2 separate regions of the Homo sapiens genome follow, and region 1 is linked to region 2. The links come from fine-mapping of genetic effects on gene expression. A gene starts in region 2. The other region holds a variant in brackets. All regions are shown on one strand. Distances are from middle to middle.

Evidence for each region. PIP is the estimated chance that this variant, and not a neighbour inherited with it, causes the effect. A credible set is the group of variants that fine-mapping cannot tell apart.
Region 1: its variant is the best candidate, but not a certain one, in a credible set for the expression of NDUFB2 in esophagus mucosa (GTEx, PIP 0.70).

The regions. Positions count from the first base shown.
Region 1 is chr7:140,800,485-140,811,444 of GRCh38, reverse strand. BRAF (B-Raf proto-oncogene, serine/threonine kinase) reads left to right here. Exons shown (of 18, transcript NM_004333.6): 4 at 2,450-2,553; 5 at 3,383-3,485; 6 at 9,885-10,033. Among named protein-coding and RNA genes, the nearest start is that of NDUFB2-AS1, 110 kb to the right of the region's middle. The variant ACC/C (reference allele first, on the strand shown) is at 7,030.
Region 2 is chr7:140,687,281-140,704,709 of GRCh38, reverse strand. It overlaps NDUFB2 (NADH:ubiquinone oxidoreductase subunit B2), which reads right to left and starts at 8,002. Exons shown (of 4, transcript NM_004546.3): 1 at 7,868-8,002; 2 at 1,700-1,844. The coding sequence starts at 7,965. It overlaps ADCK2 (aarF domain containing kinase 2), which reads right to left. Exons shown (of 8, transcript NM_052853.4): 6 at 14,985-15,113; 7 at 13,897-13,950; 8 at 9,600-10,047. The coding sequence ends at 9,907. It overlaps NDUFB2-AS1 (NDUFB2 antisense RNA 1), which reads left to right and starts at 7,633. Exons shown (of 2, transcript NR_024454.1): 1 at 7,633-7,795; 2 at 7,890-9,374. RefSeq lists enhancers at 7,684-7,993, 14,547-15,047.

The sequences.
Region 1 (10,960 bases), 110 kb before region 2:
TCTCCCCTGAGAGTCCCCTAGCCCTCCTCTTCTGGGTGATAGCCACTCCACCTCAGCTTCTGGCCAGTCCTGTTTGGGTAGTGGCCACTCTGCCTTAGCCTCTGGACAGTATGCTTTAAGGACATCCTCTGCCTGCAGATCTGTCAATGTCACCCAATAAAGCTATGCATGCTACTGCCACCTCGTGGTCATATCTTTTTCCTTGATCAGACCCCAGATCCTTCACATTTAAAATACAGTTAGGTTCCTACCAGCCTCTAGTCACATTTTCATCAGTCAGTCGATACGTAACCTTGTTTTGTGTGTGTTTCTGTTTAAAGACATATTGTTGATTCATTAACATTGAACTCACGGCTGACATTACTATAACTCATGCCTGAAGGAAGCTGGCCTAACACATGTACTTACTCTGCCAGGGACATTATAGCCTTCTTATGCTTACCAGCCCTAAACAGCACGTGAGCACTATGCTTAGGGATTATTTTAAACAGAAGAATCATCAACAAGAAGCACAAAAGTGAGAAAAAAGTGGCACCAAATAGGCTCTGCCCAGGATACTTGTTTATAGTATGAAAATTGAAACAAGAAGGCAAGAGAAAGCTTCACTGTTCAACCTCAGTTGGAGAGGTGCATGCATTAGGCGACTCAAATATCTCATTGCTCTGCGCATGTCTATGAAAGCACTAAGAGTATTGACTTTAGAGTTACAAATAAATTTTAGCAAGTAGAGAGATTTCAAGTATGGACTCCACAAGTAATGAGGATCAACTGTACCATCCAGTCTCTTTAATACTTCCAGTGATGAGCCCAGTCTCTCATGACAAACTTTTACCTTGCTGGGTAGGTAAAAGTTCAGGGTTTTTCTTTGTTTGTTTGTGACAGTATCTCGCTCTGTCACCCAGGCTGGAATGCAGTGGTACGATTTTGGCTTGCCGCAACCTCTGCCTTCTGGGTTCAAGTGATTATCGTGCCTCAGCCACCTGAGTAGCTGGGATTATAGGCGCCCGCCGCTCTGCCCGGCTACTTTTTGTGTTTTTTAGTAGAGATGGGGTTTCACCATGTTGGCTAAGCTGGTCTCGAACTCCTGACCTCAAATGATCCACCCACCTTGGCCTCCCAAAGTGTTGGGATTACAGGTGTTAGCCACTGCACCCAACCTGGATAGTTTTAATGGTTATATTGCACTACCCTCTGCGTCCTGTTATTTCTGGTCATAGATCCTAATTAGGCTTTCTGGACTCTTTCCCCCTTCAATATATTATTTGAATTCAGCTGTCTTATATTTACCTTTACCCCCTTTTTTTCCCCTCTAGCATAAATATTCCCAATTTCTTTGGAAACTTTTGGTTTGCTAAGCACCTCAATTTAAATGAATGGAACTTATTGTTACAAACTAACATTTCCCCTTCTTCTTACACCTCCCAATAAAAACTGTGTCCTCTGTATTCACACTGCCTCACTGTAGTCTACACCTTCAGTTCCAAGTAACTCAGATTTGCCTGTGGGGGATGAGGCAAGGAAAAGGCTAAAGATAGATAACTTTAAATATACAGAGAGATTACTTTTTTTTTCCCTTTCCCTTTCCCTCCTTCTCTGTCTCTCTCTTCCCATGTCATCTTTGCTGCTTCGTATGTTAGCTTCATTCTATAACAGATTTTCTCAGTGTGGTGGAGAATATGGCCATTGAGGGCTCCAGATTTGTATCTTCTGCAAATCTACAGAACTACAGTAGAAACAAGGACTTTTCTCTGTCAGTGTCCATGTGTCAATTTAGGGAAGAACTCAGGTACTGTTTGGGTCATATATATAGCCCTGGACCAGTTGCTCTTGCCGGGGGTATGGGAAACTGATTAGCCAGCTTCTGTCATCTGTAGTGACATAAAAGTAGTGACCCTTGATAGCTTTTCTAGTACCATGTGGATTTCTAGAGAAGGGAATATTCCCAGAGGAAACAGGGGCACCAAACAACAAATATCAAGTATACATGTTAAGACAGGTTTTTTTCTTCCCGCTATGTTTAGGGCCAGTAAGAGGTCTCTTAAGGACAGTCAGTGTGATTGAAGGGTTATACAGTTTTCAGCTTTGAACAGTATTGGATCAAAATTGATTTTGCTTTTAATATTGACATCTATTATTGCTCAGTGATGGATATACTGCGTTGGTGGGTATATTGTAGCAGATACTGTTACTTCTTCTTTTTATATGTTTAAAGTATTTCATAATTTTAATAAAATAGAAAATTAACTTTGCTTTGATTTAAGTTGGTGAATAATAACAAATATTTGGGTTATAATTTCCCTTTAGTATTAAGTTAGCTGTAGAAATGGTGTTGTATCTGACCTAGTAACCCATTTGACTTTTTAAAGATGAATTACTAAATTTTTTTAATGATATGAAAAAATGTAATTTGCTCCCTTTACCTCTTATCAATATATTTATGATACCATAGGTACCTGCAAGGTGTGGAGTTACAGTCCGAGACAGTCTAAAGAAAGCACTGATGATGAGAGGTCTAATCCCAGAGTGCTGTGCTGTTTACAGAATTCAGGATGGGTATGGTTTGTATGTGACGTGAAATTTTGTTTAAAAAGAAAATCACACATTAAACTTTGAAGTTTTCTTAGGATCTTTACCAAAACCTAGGGAATTGAAAGTGTACTTTAGGAAAAAGTATTAAAATAATACTAAGTTAGCCTGAAGAAATACTGTAGGCCATATGAGGAGTTAAATAATTGTATATGACTGTAGGGTTTGTTACTTTGATCAAATGATTTTATTTGGAATTTGAGATTCTTACAATTTTTGAACCATTCAGAGTGTGATTTATTTGGATAATAGACTCTTACCCCCCTCCCATTTTTAATACAAACTCATAGTTTCACAAAAGGTATATCAAAATTAACATTTTATATTGACCTACTTTTCTTTCAGAAAGTGTCTAACATTGTTCCAAGACCCTCACATTTTGAATCCTCTTTAAAAAAAAAAAAATTATTTTGGGGGCATGTTGTCCCTGTCCCTTGAGTACTCTTTTTCCTTGAATGGATAGATAAGTCCGTACCTGTGATTTTTTTTTTTTTTTTTTTTTTTTTTGGACCCCAGGAACAATCCATTTTCTGCTGTTGTAGGTCTTTTCTGGAGCTGACTTGAAGAAAAGAGTACATCTCTTTACCCTGCTGTTTGTCCAAGAGTGATACATTTATTTGGGGTAAACTTAAAATTAATTTATTGCCATTTAAATTTCTAACGATGGAATATTAGGGAGCCAAACCTCCCTCACTGTTACTAGCCCCTCGATAACCAATTTTCATATCTTCAGCATGAGGTATATGAATATTTTTAGGTGTAATAACCAAGAAAGGCTTGTGTCTACATTTTTCAGAGAGAAGAAACCAATTGGTTGGGACACTGATATTTCCTGGCTTACTGGAGAAGAATTGCATGTGGAAGTGTTGGAGAATGTTCCACTTACAACACACAACTTTGTATGTATCTTTACATTTTTTTTTGAAATGTCAAAAATGTTTAGATTTTAATGAATGAATTTTTATTTAGGGAATGTGAAATATGGATGAGTAATTTTGGAACTGACATTTTACCTGAGTTGAAATCAGTTGTTTTCTTTAAAAACTTGTATTTAAACAAGAGTTTAATTTTAATCTTTATACTTTCTTTTTAATTTAAAAAAGTAAAATGTATGCATTGTTAAAAGATAATTTTGAATAGTGCAGAAGTATGTCAAGTAAAAAAAGTGAAAATACCCTCCTAGAGGCCAACATTTGTTTAGATTAACAGATTATTGTTCTGTCTTCCAAACTTTTTTCTGTGTACACAAACGTGTGCTTGTACCTGTAAGCCTAAAGTTTTTTCCTTTCTTTTTTTCTCTCTTTCCTTCATTACTTTCTTTTCTTTTCCCTTTCTTAAATCAAAGTAGAGCCATGCTATGTGATATTCTTTGCCTTATTTTTTTTTAATTCAACAGGATGTCACGGACATCTTTTCATGTCAGTATACCTGGCTTTATTTTAGTATGACTATGTAATAATTCGTAAGAATAGGAATTCATTATATTTAACCATTTCTCTATTGATAGACATTTAAGTTTTTGTATTATAAAAAATCTGTTACATACAGGGCTAAACAAGGTCTTTCTGCATATATCTTGACACACTTGTACACACCCTTGTGTTTCTGAAGGATAGGTTAATGGAAATAGAATGGCTGGATATTAAACTCTCCATGAGGCTTTTTTCTTTGTCTGGTTTTTGCATTTGCTAGAACCTAGCATAAGCCTAAGGGTCACCAGCATAAGGCCCGGAATGTGGGACCTTTCCACCTTAGAGATGAGGATCTACATAGAACTTGAGAACTTATCCCCTAAAATGGCAGGCAGAAGCCAAAAGTTGTCTCTGAATCAGGAATACATTTCTTACTTTTCTCTATGTATGGAATTTTGGCCAGAGTTTTTTCTAGGTGGATAATTACTGCTACCCTTTAGGCGTCAAGTGTTTTCCCATGTGTCTTGGTGATTAATCCAGCTGGGCTCTTAAAGCAGATGATTGATTAGATTATTTCCTTTGGGGTTTATGCTTTCAAGCCTCCATTAGTAGTGAATAATGAAATCATGTTTGTGTTTCTGTAAGGCATTTTTTGGGAGAAGTGTAAGATACACCTAATGTCAATCAAATTTTACTGTGCAGCAAATAATTTTTTAACATGTTGAATTTTAAGTGGATAAATCTTAACATTTTTATTTAAGTTCTTAAGAATACAAATACAGTTGAGCATACATTTCATAGTGATTACTACTCTGTTTCTTAATAATTCTTCTTAGCTAGAAATTGAATATGAGGAGATAAAAGAAAGACCTAAGTTGCTAAGTGTGAGAAAATAGTATTAAAATGATGCCTCAGGAAGGTCCTTGCCACAGAAGGATTGTGAAAGCAAACTGCAGATTGATTCCAGAGTATGGAAATTGTCACCACTCAGTTGGATACCTGCCAGTAAATTTTTATTGAGAACTTTCCATTTGCCAATACCATATCTTACCTAGGGATATGACAAATGAATAAGACAGTGTCACTGCCATAGAGTAGAGAGAAGATTTAATAAATTTTCATAAACATTCATAATTACTATATATGTATAAAGTTCTATAGATGCACAGAGATTCCTAACCTGGCTTTTGAGGAGTTAGGAAGGTTTCTCAGAGACAGAAATATCTAAGCTTAGGCCTGATGGATGAGGAAGTAAGTATCAAGTAAAGAGTACCCTAAACAGAGGGAAGAGCAAGAAAGCATGTTACCTTTCAAAGTTTTGAAAGAAGTTCAGAATGGATGATACAAGGTTGAAGAGTAGGTTGTTAACAGTATTGTGGGTAGAATAAGAGTTGTGGGTAGAATAAGCAGAGTCCAGCTCATGAAAATCCTTGTTAGCCATATTAAAGATTTGGATTTTTCTGTAAAATAATTAGAAATGTAATAGTTGTAAGCTTGGGGAGAAATGTGATTAGATTTGTGTGTTAGAATGATTGCTCTGAGTGCCATATAGAGGCAAGATCAAAAACCTATGTTCTGCTTAGAAAGGAAAAGTGTTCTTGGCTGTCTTGGGTTTTGCTTGGCTATTCAAGGAGGGCTGCTTATGCCTCATGGTTTCATATTATAAAAGCAATCCCTTCAGTATTTCTCTATATCCCAAGAGTCCTTGGGAACTGGGAAGTGGGAAAACAAGATTTGAAACTTTTATATCCAAACCTTCTCCTTTTTCTGCAGACACTCAGTGTCTTCCTTCACACAGCCCCACACCTTACAAATTAATGCATGCAAATTACCTTGACTGTGCCTCTCACTAATTTGCCATACATATTTATGTATACTCAGATACTAGATTAAGTGTAAGCTGTGACCCAAAAGAAAGATATATCTTCCTGTGCTCATCTTTATTGACAAAGGTATACTTACAGATACAGGCATATATTGCTTAAAATTTATGATCAAATGCATATCCACATGTTTTCTTTCCTTCAGCTGTTTTGGTCACCTACCTACTTGGTTTGGTGAATAATGGCCACATAAAAAATTTTAAAGATTTTAAAATTTCTTGTATATCCAGAGACAAATGGAAAAAGAACACAATTAGAAATAGACATTTACCTGTTTTATATCCCCTAGAAAGTGATACATAGGAAAAAAGGTGAAGAAAATAAGAGTCACTTTTAAAACTAAATGTCCTCAAAAAGCCAGAATGTATTATATATCAGGATGTAATTTTCTTGAAATATTTTCAATAACTTTCTATTCTTAATGGAACAGAATGTGTAAATAAATGTGTATTGAAAATGGACTTTTGGCTGGGCACAGTGGCTCATGCCTCTAATCCCTTGAGAGGCCGAGGCAGGCAGATCACTTGAGCCCAAGAGTTCAAGACCAGCCTGGGTAACATGACAAAACCTCATCTCTCCAAAAAAATACAAAAAGTAGGTGGGCATGGTGGTGTGCACCAATAGCCTTGGCTATTCAGCCTGAGGTGGGAGGATAACTTGAGCCTGGGAGGCAGACTTTGCAGTGAGTCATGATTGTGCCACCATACTCCAGCCTGGGCAACAGAGCAAGACCCTATCAAAAAAAAAAGAAAAGAAAAAGAAAAGTAGACTTTTGATGTTGAAATCTATTTAATGTATCATAAAAAAATTTACATGTAGCAGAATAGATTAGGAAGTTCTAATTCATGTTGTATATAGTCAGGGTAAGTAGTGTTGTATGAATACAGTTATATATGGAGTCATAATGTAAAATATCATTATTTGTGATTAAAACTCTGAAAAACTGGGCACAGTGGCTCACGCCTGTAATCCCAGCACTTTGGGAGGCTAAGGTGGGCAGCTCACGAGGTCAGGAGTTCAAGACCAGCCTGGCCAGCCTGGTAAAATCCTGTCTCATTTGAAAATCTTGTGAGTTGTAACTGGTTTTATACAAAATATTGAAGAGTGGAAATTGTATAATTACAATCATGTAATTAAAAGTATTAACC[ACC/C]CCCCCCAAAAAAAAAACCTGTCTCTACTAAAAATACAAAAATTAGCCAGGTGTGATGGTGTGCGCCTATAGTCCTAGCTGCTCGGGAGGCTGAGGCAGGAAAATCGCTTGAATCCAGGAGGTGGAGGTTGTAGTGAGCCGAGATCGTGCCACTGCACTCCGGCCTGGGTGACAGTGAGACTCTGTCTCAAAAAAAAAATCTCTGAAAAACTGAAATGAATTAAGAATATAGAGGCCGAGTGTGGTGGCTCATGTCTGTAACACTCTGGGAAGACGAGGCAGGCGGATCACTTGAGGTCAGGAGTTTGAGACCAGCCTGGCCAACATGGTGAAACTCCATCTCCACCAAAAAATACAAACGTTAGCTAGGCATGGTGGTGCATGCCTGTAGTCCCCAGCTACTTGGGAGGCTGAGGCAGGAGAATCACTTGAAACCAGGAGGCAGAGGTTGCAGTGGGCCGAGATCCTGCCACTGTACTCCAACCTGGGCGACAGAGCGAGACTCCATCTCAAGAATACAGAGCAAAGAACAAATAATGAAATAGAAGTCACCCATGCTCTCGCCACTCTGAAGTAGCCACTCACATTTTGATATTTATTCTTATATTTTCTTATTATTATATACACTAAATAAATATATTTTAAGCAATTTCTGGCTTTAGTGGGATAGATTCTTCCTAGTGCAGTTCTGTTACGTGACTCATGTTCTACATCATTTGCCTTTGACATGGAATTCTTAACATGTTGCCTTCTAAGTTTCACCTAGAGAAGTGTTCACAAATAAGTTTATGTGGCCCAAACATTCTAATCCTCTAAGAAATTGATCATTTGTTAGAAAAAATAGATCTTATTGTCTTTTAGGTGATTTTTCTGTTTCTTATTTTTTTTAGTAAGATTAGGAAGAGCTGTTTCAATTTTCATATGATTACTTACTAGTTTTATAAATAATTGTTTTTACATTTTTATCCAAAGTTAACCATTATGTTTTTGGACCATAGATCAGGGGTTCTGATTCTGTCAGCTATTTTGTTTTTGTTTTTGTTTTAGCTATTATGTAGATTGTATTTATAGTCTCTCTCCCTCCCACCCCCAATTCCACTCTGGAGGAATTCACTGTTAATTTTTAATGGTTTCTGTTTTAAGCTCTTTTGGTGATTATTTTCATCTTACTAAATACAGTTACACATTGCCTGATGACTGGGATATGTTCTGAGAAATGCATCAATGGTGATTTTGTTATGTGCTTACACAAGCCTACATGGTATAGCCTAACTATACAACTAGGCTATATGGTAGAGCCTATTGCTTCTAAGCTAATAACCTGCACGGAATGTTACTGAACTGAATGCTGTAGGTAACCTTAACACAGTGGCAAGTTTGTGTATCTAAACGTAGAAAAGGTACAGTAAAAATACAGTATAAAAGATCAAAAATGGTCTACCTGTGTAGGATACCTAATATGAACAGAGCTTTTAGGACTGGAAATTGCTCTGGTGAGTGAGTGGTGAGTGAATGTGAAGGCGTAGGACATTACTATTTGTTACTGTAGACTTTTATGATAAACATTGTACACTTAGGCTACAGTACAGTTTTAAAATTTTTCTTTTTAAAAAGTTTATAAAGTAAAAAATTTACATTAAACTAAGGTTTAATTTTTTTTAACTTTTTGACTCTTGAAATAACAGTTTCAAAAGTTTAAAAACATTATATAGCTATACAAAAATATTTTATGTGCTTATTCTATAAACTTCTATTTTAAAAATTTTTAATTTTTCTTTTTTACTTTTTAAACTTTTCTGTTAAAAATGAAGACACAAGCTGCACACGGTGGCTCATGTTTGTAATCCCAGCACTTGAGGAGGCCTAGGCAGACGCATCACCTGAGGTCAGGAGTTCAAGACCAGCCTGGTCAACATGGTGAAACCCTTCCTCTAATAAAAAATAGGAAAATTAGCCAGGCCTAGTGGCATGTGCCTGTGGTCCCAGCTGCTCGGGAGGCTGAAGCAGGAGAATCACTTGAACCAGGAGGTGGAGGTTGCAGTGAGCCGAGATCGTGCCACAGCACTCCAGCCTGGGCGACAGAGCCAGACTCTGTCTCAAAAAAAAAAAAAAAAAAAAAAAGACACAAACATACACATTAGCCTAGGTCTACACAAGGTCAGGATCTTCAAGGTATCACTAGGCAATAGGAATTATTCAACTCCTTTATAATCTTATGGGACCACTGTGGTATGAAGTCCATGATTAACTGAAGTGTCATTATGTGACACATGACTGCAATTATCTTTTAGCCACAATTTCTTGCTTTATTAACTTTAGATATCATATACTGATTACTGATTGTATAAGGAATTAGCTCATTTATAGTTCTTCCTCTCCCTCCTCTCCCCCAATATTTTTATTAGTAGTTTTTTGGTTCTTCTATTGGGTGCCTTTGTAACTTTAATATATGCCTTTCTTGTTCCGTCAACACCAGTCGGCATTTCTTAACCTCCCTTCTTTGTATGATAATTAAAGTATAGGCTTCTTCCTTTCACCTCTGTTTCCTCCTCCTTTTCATGTCTACTTTTACTTTTATGTTGTCAAGCTTGAAATCAGTTGCCAGCCTTTTACTCATTTCTCATTTTTTAACTTCTGGGTTTTTAAGTTAGATAGTGGGGTGGGAAATAAATATGTGTAGTCCATCTATTATCTTGAACCCCCGGTTTTCATTTTATAATAGTACTTTAGTATGTGAGTTTCATGATATAAATATATTACAACTTTGTTATTTTAAACAAGAGAGTAGATACGTCAGTTTCTAGAAAGTTTTCTTGTGAGTTTTTGAAATCTCTGTGATTTTTTACTTTGCAGGTACGAAAAACGTTTTTCACCTTAGCATTTTGTGACTTTTGTCGAAAGCTGCTTTTCCAGGGTTTCCGCTGTCAAACATGTGGTTATAAATTTCACCAGCGTTGTAGTACAGAAGTTCCACTGATGTGTGTTAATTATGACCAACTTGAGTAAGTAATCCAAAAATATCTCTTTTCTACCTACCATTTTACACTTAAATTTTCTTAATGTGAAGCTACGATGTCTAAAAGTCTGTGAGGGTTTTTCTTCCATACGATTGTTATAGAGAATTTTTTTTAAGTGTAGTTAGAGAATAATATGTGGAATGGACAGTATTTCTCTCCCAAATTGTAATGCTGGTTCAGCTATACAGTTAATTTATATTTTATATTATCGTTTAATTAATCAAGACCCCTAACCCATAGAAACCATTTTTGGATAGTTTCTAGGAGGAGAGGGAGAGTTGTTTCAATTAAATTAAGCATTATGATTTTGTACCACAGATCAGGTAGTCTGATTCTGTTAGCTATTTTGTAAATTACGTTTATATTCTTCCTCTCTCTCCTTCATCCCCATTCAGCTCCCTTCCCCCAATTTATTTGAGTAAGATGTAAAATTTTTGTATCCAGTATATATCTCTTTCTAAAATTTCTCTTTGCTGTATGCCAGTTTTTCTAATAGATTAGACTGAGTCTATTATCTCTTTTTGTGTCATTGGTGCTGCTGCTGTTAAAGTCTTACTTTTCTTGATCACCTGAGCAAATAAAACTTAACTCTGTACTTTAAGTAAATTATAATGTCACCTAATTTACAGTAGATACTTTTTATTCTCATTCTTTAACCATAAAGCATGATTTTCATCTTGTAGTATGTAGAAATTTGCTGAACTGAATGATTAGTTTTAAGTTATAAGCATGCCTTTGAAAGTGCAATACAATTTTTTTTAAAATAAGCCTTTAGACAAAAATACAACTAATTGAATTTTAACAGTTGTTTCTGAGAATGGAATTTGATCTCAGTTTTTTTGGTTAACTATGTATTTTGGTATATGAAGCTTCTGGGTTTTGCACAAGTTAGGTTTGTTTTGTTTTGCCTCA
Region 2 (17,429 bases):
GGCCCACCTGTTCTTTAGTTTGTTCATTATATGGGCTCTGGTCTGAATTTTAAAAGCCTCCCCATTTGGAGGTACCAGCCTAAGCCAATGGTACGTGTCTGTGATAGAGGGAGGGTAGGGGGAAGTGGAGGCAATAGGTTTCAAAGGTTCCTGACATCCTGGCAAAGTCCTGGCAAAATATGTTTCCAACTCTCCTAACATTACTGCTGTGAAATGGAGAAGCCTCAGGTGGACTTCCTCATCTCCAATCCTGATCTAAGGGCTTATCTGGCTGCATCATCATCATCTCAGGCCTAACAGCTATACATACTGTACATACTCCGGACAGCTGACCTACAGTGAGGCAGGGGCACCTCAAATAGTAAATGTGTGGACAGTTCACAGACACCCAGGCAGCTCCTTACTGAAGGACAACGGCACAGAGAAGTTCTAAGAGAAATGGGATATGAAGCAACCTGATGCTTCTAAAACTTACATACTGCTTAAGATTTTTTTCCTATCCTGGAAACAAACCCAAATTTACTACAACTCAAAGTATCCTGGATAAACAAGCACAGATTTCAATGTCTTAAAGACGTAATTTCCCAAAGAACGGTCTGCAAATGTGGTAAAACCTCAGTTGAGGCTAATGATATGTTAGAAAATCACTAAAACTGGCCGGGCGCAGTGGCTCACGCCTGTAATCCCAGCACTTTGGGAGGCCAAGGCAGGTGGATCATGAGGTCAGGAGATCGAGACCATCCTGGCTAACACGGTGAAACCCCGTCTCTACTAAAAATATAAAAAATTAGCCGGGAGTGGTGGCGGGCACCTGCAGTCCCAGCTACTTGGGAGGCTGAGGCAAGAGAATGGCGTGAACCCAGGAGGCGGAGCTTGCAGTGAGCCAAGATCGCACCACTGCACTCCAGCCTGGGTGACAGAGTGAGACTCCATCTCAAAAATAAATAAATAAAATAGAAAATCACTAAAACTAACTTCCCTTCTCAAGACAAATTAACTCACATCCATCCCACCCAAACCTGGCTGCCCTGGGCCTCTGGACAGACCAGAAGACATTCATCATTTAAAGGAATTTAAGTGTGAAACCTAACCTACCAATGAACCGCTAGTTCAGAAGGTAAAAGAATTCATTTCTGGCCAGGCGCGGTGGCTCACGCCTGTGATCCCAGCACTCTGGGAGGCTGAGTCAGGTGGATCACTTGAGGTCAGGAGTTTGAGAGCAGCCTGACCAACATGGTGAAACCCCGTCTCTACTAACAACAAAAAAAATTAGCCGGCGTGGGGGTGCACACCTGTAGTCCCAGCTACTCAAGGGACTGAGGCACCAGAGTCACTTGAACCCGGGATGCAGAGGTTGCAGCGAGCCGAGATTGTGCCACTGCACTCCTGCCTGGTGACAGAGTGAAACTGTGTCTCAAAAAAAAAAAAAAAAAAAATGAGCTTTTAGTCTCCCTAAGATGGCAACCTAACAGAAACCATAAGAAACGGACCACCTAAATATACATCCTCGTGTAAAAAAAGGTGAGAAGATAACATGTTTCATTAAATAACAGGATTCTTGTATATACATATGGAAAAAGTGGTGGCAAAGGGCGATGTCCAGACAGAAAAATGGTCTACAACAGAAAAATAAACAAGCTATTAATACATCCTCCCTCCCCCACCCAAAAAACGACAAGTGCTCTTCTCCTGCACTTACCAGCACCTCTTCTGAGTCATGCCAAAAGCGCCAGAGAATCCAGAACCACATGAGTCCGCTGAAGAACTCGCTCTGGAACACCTGGGATCTGGTCAGCTGGGGGAACTGTCTATACCGGGGCTCAATGTGCACACCACCACCGGCACTGCAAGACAAAACAACATGGCAGACAGCGTGCTACATTCTCAAAGCGTTAAGTCATCCAAAACTCCTCTGAGTTACATCCTAGAACCAACGCTAATGTTTCTCATCTCCACTGAAATATAGACAGAAGTTCACAATCCCTTGAAATACTCACTTTTTACTAAGCTTGCTTCATGTGTAGCAGCAAAAACTGACCAAAACTGACAAGAGGCTAATTTTGGTTTTCAATTAGTGAAGATTCATTATTTTGCACTAGAAATTTGAATGTGTTGATTCTGGGGTGCTAGCCCCAAAGGTTTTAGTTAAGGGACTGTGAACTTGTTAGCAGGTCACTAACTTACTCAGAAAAATAAATTAATTTTGCTTTGTTTAGCTATCTATTTGAGGCAAATTATGTCCTCTGCCTATTACAATCTTTATTAAAAGACAACCATATGGGAGAGAGGACTCGCAAATCCTATTAAATATGCTAATGGCTCTGAACAAAGAACTTTAAACAGTAAGTTTGAATACGTGTTTCTTTTTTCTTCTTTTCATTCAGACACTTGACAAGTTGTGGCACAGAGTCCATAAGAGTTATAGTCAATTTATTCAGTTGGAGTATAAATATTATACGTTGCATCTAATTTAAATTATTTGCACCTACTGGGGCTATTCCTAAAACCTATTCATCAGCCATATATATGCTAATAAACAGAAGTGGATAAAAAATTTTTAAGAGAATTCCTATATAAAATATGTTTACCAATTTCATCTAGATAAGAATCAGCTTGTAAACCATATTCTCTTTTATGTAGCACAGAAATTCGTACCTGTAGGAAAAGTGCATTAAAATATCTTGTCTTCATAATGCACAGATTCGTGAACAGTAACAGGGCAGTGGTTCTTGATACATGTTAGCTAGGACTGTTTGTTTTCTTTGTTTGTTTGTTTGCGAGAGTCTCACTCTGTCACCCAGGCTGGAGTGCAATGGAACAATCTTGGCTCACTGCAACCTCCGCCTCCTGGGTTCAAGCGATCCTCCTGCCTCAGCCTCCCAAGTAGCTGGGACTACAGGTGTACGCCACCATGCCCAGCTAATTTTTGTTTTTTTTTTAGTAGAGACGGGGTTTCCCCGTGTTGGCCAGACTGGTCTCGAACTCCTGACCTTAGGTGATCCACCCACCTTGGCCTCCCAAAGTGCTGGGATTACAGGCGTGAGCCACGTGCCCGGCTGTTTTGTTTGTTTTTTTAAAGATAGGCTCTGTCGCCCAGGCTAGAGTGCAGTGGCGTGACCTTAGCTCAAGCGATCCTTCTGCTGACTGAGCACCTCCTGGGCTCAAGCAATCCTCCTGCCTCAGCCTCCCTCCCAAGTAGCTGGGATTACATACAAGTGTACACCCCCAGACCTGGCTAATTTTTATATTTTTTTTGTAGAGACAGGGTTTCCCTATGTTGCCAGGCTGGCAGACTGTTTTTATCCTCCCCCACTCTAAAAGATGACTGGTAGTTATTGAGTGTTTACCATGTGCCAGATACCACACTAAGCATTTTATAAGTTTTAATTCATTTAATTTTCATAATGTTATGATAAGGCCTGTAATTATTAATGATTTACCAGTGAGATGCTGTGTGATGGCAAAGCCTAAGCTGTTGCCTACAGACACACACCATTAACAATTTTCTCCTTTTATTAATCAAAGACATAACTTTTAACTAGAATTCCAACCAGCATGATAAAACCAATGTTACCATATTGAAATGATAAATTCCATTTTTTTTTCTAAATAGTCATCCAAAATTTAACACTTTTATTTGGAATGCTCTATTTAAGGTATTAATAACTAATTATGAATAAGGTGATTTTTAGTTTTTGCAGATGTGTGTATATATGTACTTTTTTAAGTATCATGTTTAAAAGGTCCTACCAAATATCGCCACTTTACAACTTGAATGACGTAGCATACTGTTTCCGTAATGTCCTCATATACCAATTATATTATTCATTCAGGATCTAGCTGTGCATATAGATATTACATTATGTAAATAAACCATGCAGGATCATTCAATATAGTATAACAAGAGCTTTTTTTTTTTTTTGAGACGGAGTCGCACTCTGTCACCCAGGCTGGAGTGCAGTGACACAATCTTGGCTCACTGCAACCTCTGCCTCCCAGTTCGAGCAATTCTCCTGCCTCAGCCTCCCGAGTAGCTGGGATTACAGGCATGTGCCACCATGCCCGGCTAATTTTTGTATTTTTAGTAGATACAGGGATTCGTTATGTTGGCCAGGCTGGTCTCGAACTCCTGACCTCAGGTGATCCGCCTGCCCTGACCTCCCAAAGTGCTGGGATTATAGGCGTGAGCCACACTGTGCCCGGCCAAGAGCCTTCTTCTTTGATAGCTTTTTGATACAATCTAGGTATAAGTGCCCAGCAGTAAAACTGATTAAAACAAGATTTGAAGGCCGGACACGGTGGCTTATGCCTGTAATCCCAGCATTTTGGGAGGCCGAGGCAGGCGGATCACCTGAGGTCGGGAGTTCGAGACCACCCTGACCAACGTGGAAAAACCTCGTCTCTACTAAAAATACAAAATTAGCTGGGCATGGTGGTACATGCATGTAATCCCAGCTACTCAGGAGGCTGAAGCAGGAGAATCACTTGAACCTGGGAGACAGAGGATGTGGTGAGCTGAGATCGTGCCATTGCACTCCAGCCTGGGCAACAAGAGCGAAATTCTGTATCAAAAAAACAAAAAAGATCTGAGTAATGCCGATGCCAGCATTATAGTTCAAACCCATCTTAGCAGCTCCCCACGCTTCGTTATTGCTAGAGTGACATGTTGTTTTAATCATAACCTGAAGTAGGGACTGCAAAATGGAAACCTTTTGGAACAAAGATTTGAAAGTCTGCAATTATATCACAGGAACAATGACAAGGATTGCCATGATTAAGGAATGCAAAGACTCAACACCTAATTCACAATGTTATGTTCCAAACCAGGTTGTGAACTGCATTGTGGCAAACTAGATACCCTGAACAACCCTCCAAATTAACAACTCTGCTGCTAGATGAGATTTTTAAGATTTTTACAAACATCACTGACCAGGCACAAAAGGAAGGAATCCACCAAGAGCAAAATTCAAGTAAAAACAAGGCCTGGAAGCTAAGCAATCAATCACTGAAGCTGCCTTCACCGGGAGCCCTTGAACCTCCACCAGGATAGCTACATGAGGTGTGGGGAAAGAGACGCAGCCTGGGGCCCACCCAAGGTGGGAAGGCTAATGACGAGGTCACTGAATAAAGCTGCAACCCCATATGGTAAAAGGGTGAACAAGAAATAAACCTTCCATGGACAAGGGAACAAGAATTTGTTATCAGAAGCCAGTCCTCAGGTAGATTTGCACCCAAATTCACATTACCTGCGTTGGACCTGTGTGGACCAAAAACCCCAAGCCGAGAATTTAATGTGAGCCTGAATTGGGGTGGCACCCTCAAGAGACTAAGAGAAGCACGATCTCAAAGAAATTCCAGGGAAAACAAGCTCAAGATCAAAAAACATAAGGAAGTAAGACACTATCAGCAAGTCCTGTAAGAAGGAAAGAGAATGGGGAAGAAACAACATCCAAGGAAATAATGGCTGTTCCAACTTCAAATGTTTGAGAGTCAAGTTTAAAAACAAAAATGCACCATAACTCTATTAGTTACATTTTTATTTTTATTTTTTTGAGACGGGGTCTCACTCTGTCACCCAGGCTGGAATGCAGTGGCACGATCTCGGCTCACTGCAACCTCTGCCTCCTGGGCTCAAGCAATTCTCCTGCCTCAGCCTCCCCAGTAGCTGGGATTACAGGCGCACACTACCATGCCCAGCTAATTTTTGTGTTTTTAGTAGAGATGGGGTTTCACCGTGTTGGCCAGGCTGGTCTCGAACTCCTGACCTCAGGTGATCCGCCCGCCTCAGCCTCTCAAAGTGCTGGGATTACAGGTGTGAGCCACCGCGCCTGGACAAAGTTACATTTTTAAAAAATAAATCAGACCACATTACTTTCCTGCTTTAAAACTCCAATGGCTCCCTGTGATTCTTAGAATAAAATTCCGAGTCCTCCAAAGCCCCCTCTAATCCGGCCCCCACACTTGTCCCTGTGACCTGGTCTCTCCCACTCTTCCCCTACGCTCCACTCCAGCCTGGCCTCCTGCCAACCCTGCGGGCTCTGGCCTCTCCACCTGATGCCTCCTCTGCCCTCTTATGTCCACCGGGCTCTTCCCTTGAGGTCTCTGCATGGCTGACTTCTCATCCCTCAGGTCCCGCTTCAAATCACACTCCCAGGCATTCCCACGCCATCCCCAAATACAATATCCCTTCTACTCCCACACCACGCATTCTCCATATTAATCCCCAGCTGTATTCTCTTCATAACCCTTAACAGTACTCAAAAAAGGTCTTTCTTTTCTACTGGTCTCTCCTCTCCAGAATGTACACTTCATTCTCTCTCGTATTCTGCTATATCCTCAGCACCTAGAAAGGAGCAGCCATATAGAAGATGCTCCATAAACATTTATGCACTTAATTATCACACACTCTGAAACAAGTGTGTGTTACGAACAAGCCAGCACCTCAGGGAAGATCGGCATTCCCCCATCTCCTCATGCAGGACCAAGGGCTGTCGCTCATGGCTCTCCATCACTGTCTTTGCCCAAGTCACACAGGGCTTTGCCTTCTGCCCACCCCACACCTGCCCCAGCTCCAGATTCTTCATCCATGTGGGACTTCAGGCAAGTCACTCCTTTCATTTCCTGGGCCTCAGTTCCTTAATAACAACAACAGTTAAAGAATACTTGTACGGTCCTTAGCAGGCACCAGCAATTGTTTTAAACACTTTAGTGAGACCAAGCGCAGTGGCTCGCCTGTATTCCCAACACTTTGGGAGGCCGAGGCTGGAGAATCACTTGAGCCCAGGAGTTAGAGGCTGCAGTGAGCTAGGATCGCGCCACTGCACTCCAGCCTGCCTGACAGAGTTAGACCCCATCTCCTAAAACACACAAACACGCTTTAGATAACAGTAACTCATTTAGTTCCTTGCAAATGGACGCCAAATGGGTGAGGAAACTGAGGCATTAAGAGAATAAGAAACTTTTCCAAGGTCCCACAGCTGGAGTGTGGCAGAGGTGGGATTTGAACCCAGCCACTGTGCGGCCAGAATCCCGCTTGGAATCACGACCCCACACTGCCTCTTGGTAAAGTGTAGCTGATGATCTAAGGGACCTGGAATCATCCATGACTCTTTTCCAGTCCTGCTCTTACGGAATCTCTGCACACCACTAACTCGGCTTCGGCAGCTGCTCCCTACCTCGCACCCGCTCCCTACCTCGCACCCCCAGCCCTCCGCCCTCCGGTCTGCGTCTCGGGCCACCTCGCGGGCGGCTCTGCCTGTCACTCTCCTAAACGCCACGGCTGCCCCAGCGTTGGCTTCCGGCTTTCTGCTCCTCTCACCCGACGGCGCTCTCTCTGGGCGACAGCCTCCACTCCCTGCAGCCAGAGTGATTTTTCAGCATTAAAAAGCGGCCACGTGACGTCTCCGATTAAAGGCTGCCGAACAGACTCTACCCTAAATTCCGCAGCCAGGCACCGGGACCCTGGACCGCGCCCTCCCTAGGCCTCACCGCCGCCGCCCCCCGCCTCGCTCCAGGAGCGTCCACACCCGCCGCGCACGCTGCTTCCTCCGCCTGGACCGCCCGCGCCGGCGCCGACTGGCTCAGCCCGCTCCGCATTCACGCGTGCGTCTCCCGAGGGCAGGCGGCCCCTACTACCATGACGGCCCTGCACACGGTGTCCCATCTGCCCAGCGAAGTCTCTCCCTCTCCCTCCGGCCAGCGGGGTCCCTCTCCTCGAGTCGCGGCTTCAGGAGACACGCGGACTACAGGTCCCAGCATGCCTCGGGACGCGGCCTCTTCAGGCGCCCCAGTCAAGGTGAGAGCGTCCCAGGGACCCGCGCTGTCCGCTACAGGCCGGCGAGGCCCCCATCCCCAGCCCCACACTCACTGACGGACTCCACCATCTCCAGCAGTCCGTGCGCAGCCGCTTCTGAAAAGGCGGCCTCCAACGCGAGCGAAAGACGCCAGCCGAGTCAGAGCGGACATACTCGCTCCCGTCCGCCCCGCGGTCCCCAGCCGCCTCGCCCCTGCCTACTTCGCTTCCCCGGCGCTCCGCCCGCGCCTCCCGTGACGTCACAGAGTCGCTCATCTCCAGGAGTGGGGGAGCCGGCAGCCGCTCCTGACCCAGATTAGCTGTGAGTCCTTCGGCTGCAGGAAACCTCTCTCCCGAGAGCAAAGCCCACGCATAACTTATGGTTGCTGAGCTGCCCCATGCCTTCTGAAACAGCTTGTTGGTTGCCCCTCTGATCCTGTAGGGCTCTCCCCGTGTTCTGCCCCTCCTAAAACTGAGTGGTGTATAATTCTTTTTTTTTTTTTTTTTTCTTTTTGAGACAAGGCCTTGCTCTGTCACCCAGGCTGGAGTGCAGTGACACCATCTCGGCTCACTGCAACCTCTGCCTCCCAGGCTCAAGCGATTCTCCTGCCTCAACTTCCCGAGTAGCTGGGATTACAGGCATTGTGCCAGGCTAAGTTCGTACGCAGCAATAGATAATGCCACAAATGGCTTGATTCGATCCACTGGCTTTAAGGCTGGGTTGGCATAGGCTCAGGGAAGAGACTGCCGTCTTTTTGTCCCTTTCCCGCCTCCACACTGTACCTGATGCGCACTGGCACGAGGGGCTGCGTGACCAGCTGGTGTTCTCCCTCCCAGCCATCTGGAGCCATCCCAACCCCTCTCTGCCTGCTTTGAATGTCCCCTCAAGACCTGGGAAGGAAAAAATAACATCACCTCCTTGAAAAAAACTGCACCAAAGGAATCTCTGTCCACCTAAACCATACTGCTCACTAAAAGACAGGAATGAGGAACTTTATCCTGGAGAAGGAAAGAATGGGAGAAACTAGTCCTGTAGTCAGGGCAGGACTCTCGGAGAGCGCAAGGGCTTGACTCCATTCGCTGCCTGGTGGTCTCTAAGACGAGCAACATAATCTATGAAGGTGCAGGGATAAACTGTGATTTTACCTAAAAAAAAAAAAAAAGAGAAATTAAGCTTTACAAATACCCCCCCTCCAGGCTGACCCCGGGCCCCTCCTAGTCAGCCAGACGGCCACATCAGCTCAGCTCTGAGAAGAAAGCCCGTGGTTGGGCCTGGCAGAGAGGGGCAGGTGGTGGTCACTGCAGGTCTGTCCCTGGGCGCTGCCATGGAGAAGAGGACACACTGGTTATATTAACTCTCTTCATATTCACCAAAATTAATGCCTGCAAGTGGACAGGCGCAGACACTGTGGCAGAGAAACTGTAGTTCCGGACTAGCGGGTGAACCCGGGGCCATGTTAAGGAAGTGGCCAAGCCGTTCTGCTCACGTCCCCGGTATGTCAGCCACTTTCATCAGTTTTGTTTTACCTTGTAATAAAAGTTACCAAGGAGTTAGCAAAATCTATTAAAAATTACCAAGAAGATAATTTGAAGTACAATGAAATTTGCCCTAAGTGTATATTATGCTGGCAGGTAGCACCTGCATGATATTTATACATAAAGAGTGTGTGTGTGTGTGTGTGTGTGTGCACATGCCACAGATCAGTAGGACTTGATGGCATTTTCTAACCTGAATATCAAAGTCTGGGAACTACCAGCAGTACCCATCTGACCAGGGAGTATAGCGGGTCAAGAAATGAGAAAAACAGGAAAACAAAATAAATTTATTCGTCCTCCTCCACATAACATTTTCCCTGAAGGAGAGTGTCCCTGGCACCTGGCCCAGCTTCCACAATGGAATGGATAGGCCCCTTCCCTCCTTTTACTCCCTAATTGGCCCAAAGCTTTTGAACAGACCCTCAAACCAAGCAGAGGAAGCCATGGTGTGCCTTCCACCACTGGAGGGTTACATTTGAAATTGGTGTCCCAATTTTAAAACGTCCCAGCTGCCATAGGAGAGGCTCTTGGGAGTGGCCTCCAGCTCTTGACAAGGGCCCACAGAGGCCACTGCCCCATCACGGGGGGCACACTGGGCCCGTGAGGAGGAAGGGCCTCGCTGCCTCCAGGATGTCCAGTTTGGGGTCCAGTGAGCGGCCAAGCCCCTCCAACACCATGATGGCAAACACAATGGAGGCAAAGTTGCTCTCAAGCTTTACCTGGAACAGAAAAACAGAACAGTTCATCTCAGAACATGCTGATACAGGGACGTGTGTTCTGGATAATCACCTTGCTGTCCACTCTCAGCCTCCCTCAGACCTGCCCACGGGATGTTTACCATCTACCTGACATTCTCTTCTCTACCGCGTCATCTCCCCAACCATCTCACCTACTCGCCCAGCCTCCCATCTACTGGACACACTAAGGAAAAATCTAGGGGTGCGGAATATACTTTTCTAGGTTTGTGTCCATGTGTGTATGAATGAATGACCAAATAAATCTTTCACACACATCCCAGAAACTATACATTTAAATACAGGTAATTCTTCGAAACCTACAGTAACCTTTATGTATGTATGTATTTATTTATTTATTTTAGAGACAGGGTCTCACTCTGTCACCTAGGCTGGAGTGCAATGGCAAGATCATAGCTCACTGCAGCCTTGAGCTCCTGGACTTCAGGGATCCTTCTGCCTCAGCCTCCTGAGACTGGGACTCTTTTTTGTAAACAGAGGGTCTTGCAATGTTGACGAGGCTGATCTCGAACTCCTGGCCCCAAGCAATCCTCCCACCTTGGCTGCCCCAAGTGCTGGGATTATAGGCAGGAGCCATGTCAGCTGGTCTACAATAGCCTTTTTAAGAGACAACACACAGGCCGGGCGTGGTGGCTCACTCCTGTAATCCCAGCCCTTTGGGAGACCGAGGCGGGCGGATCATGAGGTCAGGAGATCGAGACCATCCTGGCTGACACAGTGAAACCCTGCCTCTACTAAAAATACAAAAAATCAGCCGGGCATGGTGGCAGGCGCCTGTGGTCTCAGCTACTCGGGAGGCTGAGGCAGGAGAATGGCCTGAACTCGGGAGGCAGAGCTTGCAGTGAGCCAGGATGGCTCCACTGCACTCCAGCCTGGGCAACAGAGTGAAACTCCATCTCAAAAAAATAAAAAAAATCAGAGACAACACACAATTGACTGCTCAAACAGGGTACAGCTGTCCCTTCAGAGCCAGATTAGTAGTAATAGCAATTGACATGGATTCTTCAACTATTCTTCAAAAGTATCATCGTTATCCCCATTCTATAGAGAAAGAAGCTGTGGCTCAGAGAGGTTCAATGACTTGCTCAAGGCCACTGAGTGAGGAGGAATAGAGCCAGATGTAAACCTAGAAGAACAGGAATCTGCTTTTTAAGTGGACAGAAGGTCAAGAAATGGAAGGTTGAATCATGGGAAATATTCTTTGTTAGAAATTAAAGAGTATTTGTCTCCGTTAAGGGCTGGAAGGTTGTCGGGGTCAGGTGGATCCAGAAGCAGCAGCATGCTCCCAGGAGCAGCTTGTGGAGTTCCAGCCTGGCAGATTGGCCACACAGGCTCTGGTCCGGGTGGGAACCCAGGGCTCTAACACCTCTGGGAATGCTTTCATTCTGAAGCTGGGTGGGGGGTTCTTAGTGTGGATTAGATTCCTTTATCTCTGTGTTACTGTCAAATACTTTATTTAAAAAAATTAAGTGCTACCTGAATAGATATTTCTTCTAAGGAAGATATATTATACAAATGGCCAATTGGCATATGAAAAGATGTTCAACATCATGAATCAGTAGAGAAATGCAATCAAAACCACAATGAGACATCACCTCACACCCATTAGGATGGCCACTAAAAACAAAACAGAAAATGACAAGTGTTGGTGAGGATGAGAGAAACGACCCCTTGTGTACTGTTGGTGGGCATATAAAATGGTACAGCTCCTATGGAAGTTCCTCAAAAACTAAAAACATACCATATGATCCAGAAAACCTACTTTGGGGCATATGTTTAAAAACTGGAAAGCAAGAACACAATGTATAGACCTTACTGGCTACATTAAATGTTTTTAAAACTTTTCTAAAATTTGAAAGTAGGATCTTGAAAAGATATTTACACATTCATGTTCACTGCAGCATTATTCACTATAACCAAGAAGTGGAAGCAACCCACGTGAACATCAACAGCATCAACAGAATAACAGGCCAAGCGCGGTGGCTCACGCCTGTCATCGCAGCACTTCGGGAGGCCAAGGCAGGTGGATCACTTGAGGTCAGGAGTTCGAGACCAGCCTGGCCAACATGACGAAACCCTATCTCTTACTAAAAATACAAAAATTAGCTGGGCATGGTGGCACTTGCCTGTAATCCCAGTTACTTGGGAGGCTGAGGCACGAGAATTGCTTGAACCCAGGAAGCAGAGGTTGCAATGAGCCAAGCTTGCACCACTGCACTCCAGCCTCGGTGACACAGTGAGACCCTGTCTCAAAAGGAAATCCTGTCACATGTTACAACATGGATGAAACCTGGGGACATTATATTGAGTAAAACAAGCCAATCACAAAAGGACAGTATACTTTATAATTCCACTTATATGAAATATCAAGAGTAGCCAAAATCATGGAAACGTAAAACAGCATGGTGGTTCCCAGGGCCGGATGGAGAGGGGAATGGGGAGCTGGTCAATGGCTGTAGAGTTTCAGCTCTGCCAAATGAGAAAGACCTAGAGATCTGTTGCACAATGCTAACACTATGCATCTGGAGAGGGTTGGGGGGTTAAATTTTATGTGTTTTTCATCACAATGAAAAATTTGTAAATGTTTTCAAACTTAAGTGCCTAGTGAAGTGCTTGGAGTGCAGTAGCTGCCCTAGGCCCTCTGTCTCCTCTTCCATCCTGGGAACAGCAGCAGCAGCAGCAAACACTCAAGGCCCCTCACCCACCGTGCTGGAAACTGTGTGGGGAGCAGATGCTCAGAGTGAGCCACGGAGGCGGGAGGACCCAGCAGCAGGCGGGGGCTTGCCCACATGGCCACAGGTGAGCTGCTCGGCCTCTCGGCTTTGGTGCCTGCCTCTTGGAAGACTGAGGGGATAAATTGGTTACTAATAGATGTCATATAGTTAAGTAATGCAATGGAAAAGGCCATCTTCCAACGAGGTCCTCCCTTCTCCACCTTCAACACTGCTTGTCCCTGGCCAGCAGCCTTAGTTTAAAGAGTGCCGGAGACTAGGCTCCATGACAAGGCGACAGAGCCGGGGCACAGGCTAAGATGAACCATGAGGCCAGCTCCCTCTAATGGACTACAGCAGCCAGGCAGGGGCCACAGCAGTCCCGCTAGGGCCTCTGAAAGCACCAGGACACAAGGCATGACCCTCTAGAGCGGCCTCTGGACCCCAGGACTTCATTCCACCAGGAAAGAGCTAAGCATGACTTACATTAACACAAGCATCATGAAAGTGAACCAAGGAGGGAAAGACATGAAAAGCCAGAGGTAGGCTGTTTCTACATTTTTAAATACACTTTTCTACATTTAAATGTCACAGATACTTAGACTGCACTGACTTGACAGATAGACTAACAGCTACGAAGCACTTGTTGCAAATGGCTTGTTACTAAAAATGCTTTCAAAATATATAATAGGCCGGGCACAGTGGCTCACGCCTGTAATCCCAGCACTTTGGGAGGCCGAGAAGGGTGGATCACCTGAGGTCAGGAGTTCGAGATCAGCCTGGCCAACATGGTGAAATCCCGTCTCTACTAAAAATACAAAAATTAGCCAGGCGTGGTGGTGGGAGCCTGTAATCCCAGCTACTCAGGAGACTGAGGCAAGAGAATCACTGGAAGCCAGGAAGCAGAGGCTGCAGTCAGCCGAGATCGCGCCACTGCACTCCACCCTGGGCGACAGAGTGAGACTCTGTCTCAAAAAAAAGAAAAACAACAACAAAAAACAAGAACCATATAATAGAAGCGCCTCCCACCACCCTGTGTCCTCCCATTCCTCCCTGCCCCGTCCCACCTTCCCCAGAGACCTCCCCTCTGAATGGCCCTCACCTTGTGAGTCATCAGCAACTTAAAGACACTAGAGAGAAGGCTGGACACATGAAGCTGGAAAAACAAAATAAAGGCTAATGCAGACCACCGAGCCTTCCAGAACCGCTCATTTCCCACCACCCCCACACTCTCAGCCCCAGCATCCCACCCCACTCCCCCGCCAGGGCACACATACACCAGTCAGCACAAAAGGGACCATCTGACAAACTCTGAAAGGACTCCTCCAGCACAAGCCCAACTCCACCTCAAGACTCGGTCACAGAGGCCTTTGGAAGACAAGCCTTTGAGCCCCACCCACCCCATCCCTGAAGCAACCACAAAAATCACACCTGCCTATAATCCTAGCACTTTGGGAGGCCAAGGCGGGCGGATCACTTGAGGTCAGGAGTTCGAGACCAGCCTGGCCAACATGGTGAAACCCCATTTCTACTAGAAATATAAAAATTAGCCGGGTGTGGTGGCGGGTGCCTGTAATCCCAGCTACTCGGGAGGCTGAGGCAGGAGAATCGCTTGAATCCGGGAGGTGGAAGTTGCAGTGAGCCGAGACAGCATCACTACACTCCAACCTGGGTGATACAGCAAGACTCCATCTCAAAAAAATTTTTAAAAAATCACACCTGGATAGACTATCAGCAGGGCCAGCGTGCCAGTGGCCACTCCTTGTCTGACCCATTCCTGCTAATGTGGCCATGAACTTGGGGATAAAACAGTCACATTTGCTAGAACTGTGTATAAAATACAAAGCAGGCTCTGGCTTGGGTTTAAATAAGGGACATGCGCATTGGGCACATCATTTGGCTGCTTGGAGACCACAGTCCTCCCTCCCTGTATGCTTGGCTGTCCCCAAATGAACAGCGACCCCTGGATGAGGAAGGAGCTGCAGCCTCCTAAGTGGCACCGCACAAGGAGGCCCCCTTGAGCACAACGGACTTCACTGGGGCTCCTCATGCCTGGAAGATGTGGGGTGGTTCTTTTTCTGCTTTAAAACTCACACCCCTCATAAAGAGGTCTCCCTTAGACCCAGGATCTGCTCTGCCCCAGGCCAGGTATGGACTCCCCAGCCCCTGTTCCGCAAGTGACCTGCCCACCTTCTCCAGGGTGATGGTGTTCTTCCTGGCCTGGGTCACCAGCATGGCCATCTCGGTTTTGAACCCCTCCACGTCCCTGCACTCGCTGGCCCGGGCATGATGCAGGATCAGCTCAGCCACTCTCTGGCCCTGGAAAATGCAACGGAAAAGGGACTTGGAGTGGAGCTAGCATAAACCTGGATGCGGTGCCCAAGCGTCTTTCTCATCTCAGCAGCTCCACCCTGACTTTTCTGGCATCTTGCTTTTGGCTCTTCCTCCTCGGGCTGTGACCTTTTCCCTTTGCCCATACCTATAGGGAGGAATGCCCCCACCCCCGCTGCACTGCGCCTCAGTGCTTAACCTTGGCCCAGGGGACACTTTCAAACCAGCTGCAGGCCCCAGCTTTGGGTTTGCCCTCTCAGAGGCAGGGACTGCCCTGCATTTTGCTGTTTAAAAAAAAAAAATTTTTTTTTAAAAAGAGCCAGATGCAGTGGCTCACACATGTAATCCCAGCATTTTAGGAGGCCGAGGCAGGTGGATCACCTGAGATCAGGAGTTCAAGACCAGCCTGACCAACATGATGAAACCCCATCTCTACTAAAAATACAAAAATTAGCCGGGCATGGTGGTGGGTACCTGTAATCCCAGCTACCTGGGAGGCTGAGGCAGGAGAATCACTTGAACCCGGGAGGTAGAGGTTGCAGTGAGCTGAGATCGTACCACTGCACTCCAGCCCAGGGAACAGAGTGAGATTCCATCTCAAAAAAAAAAAATTAATTAATTAATTTTTAAAAAAAACAGTTCTCTTTTTCCCAGTGTTTTTCTTGCTGGAGAATTCTTTGCCAGCCGGCCAGAGGGCCTCCTCAGAGTCACCCACGACGTAGTGCTTTCAATTGACTCTGCAGAGGCCTTGCCGAATGCCTTTTCTCTAAATAATCATTCTCAACCACTGCAGACCCTCAGAATCACAGGGGAGGCTGCAAAAACTACTCATGTCCCCACATCGGACGTGCCAGCATGCTGTGCCCCACTTAGAGGCTGTGTTCTCTATGCTGTCGCATCTCACCAGCCTGCCACCTTGCAGCAGGTAGCACACACCAGGGGCAGCCATTATCTGGTCAAGAAGCCAGCATTCCTGCTGACCAGCTGGATGTTTGCTGGAGAAGGACCAGAAACTACTAACACGAAACAGCACTTGTTTCTTCCCACAGTCCCAAACCATCTGCCACTCAGAACTGGCCTGATTTGCACCCAGCACCTGCTAACAGAAAGCCCCTTAAGGGCAGCCTCGCCTCCTGTCCTCCTGCCTCCCTCCACTCGTTTCTGGCACACTGGCAAGTGTGAGCATTGACAAGAATGACCGGGCTAAGGAGACCTGTCCTGTTTCAAGACAGAGACATTCTGGCTGGGTGCAGTGGCTCACACCTGTAATCCCAGCACCTTGGGAGGCTGAGGCAGGTGGATCACCTGAGGTCAGAAGTTCAAGATCAGCCTGGCCAACATGGTGAAACCCCATCTCTACTAAAAATACAAAAAGTGGCCGGGCATGGTGGCATGTGCCTGTAATCCCTGCTACTCAGGAGGCGTGGCAGGAGAATTGCTTGAATCCAGGAGGTGAATGTTGCAGTGAGCTGAGATCACGCCAAGGCACTCCAGCCTGGGTGACAGAGCGAGACTCTGTCTCAAAAAAAAAAAAAAGACAGAGACAGAGGCATTCCCCAGAGTATAAAAGATTCACCCCCTGCCCAGCCTGTAGTCCTAGCTACTCAGGAGGCTGAGATGGGAGGATGGCTTGAGGCCAAGGCAGCCTGCGCAATATAGCAAAACCCATCTCCATTAATTTTTTGAAACTTTAAAAAAAAAAAAAAAAAACTAAGATCTCACTCTGTCACCCAGGCTGCAGTAGAGCAGTGCAATCCTAGCTCACCACAGCCCCAAACTCCTGAGCTCAAGTGATTCTCCCACCTCAGCCTCCCAAGTAGCTGGGACCACAGGCGCACACCACCAAGCCTGGCTTTTTCTTTTTTTTTTTTGAAATGGAGTCTCACTCTTTCACCCAGGCTGGAGTGAAGTGGCACAATCTCAGCTCACTGCGACCTATGCCCCCCAGGTTCAATGAATTCTCCTGCCTCAGCCTCCCAAGTAACTGGGATTACAGGTACACACCACCATGCCTGGCTAATTTTATATTTTTAGTAGAGACAGGATTTCACCGTGTTGGCCAGGCTGGTCTCGAACCCCTGACCTCAGGTGATCCACCCGCCTTGGCCTCCCAAAGTGCTGAGATTACAGGCGTGAACCACTGTGCCTGGCCTATTTTCTTATTTTTTATAGAGACAGGGTCTCACTATGTTGCTCAGGCTGGCCTTGAACTCCTGGGCTCAAGCAATCCTCCCCGCTCAGGCTTCCAAAGTGCTGGGATTACAGGTCTGAGCCACCATGCTTCACCAGCTCTTTTAATTAAAA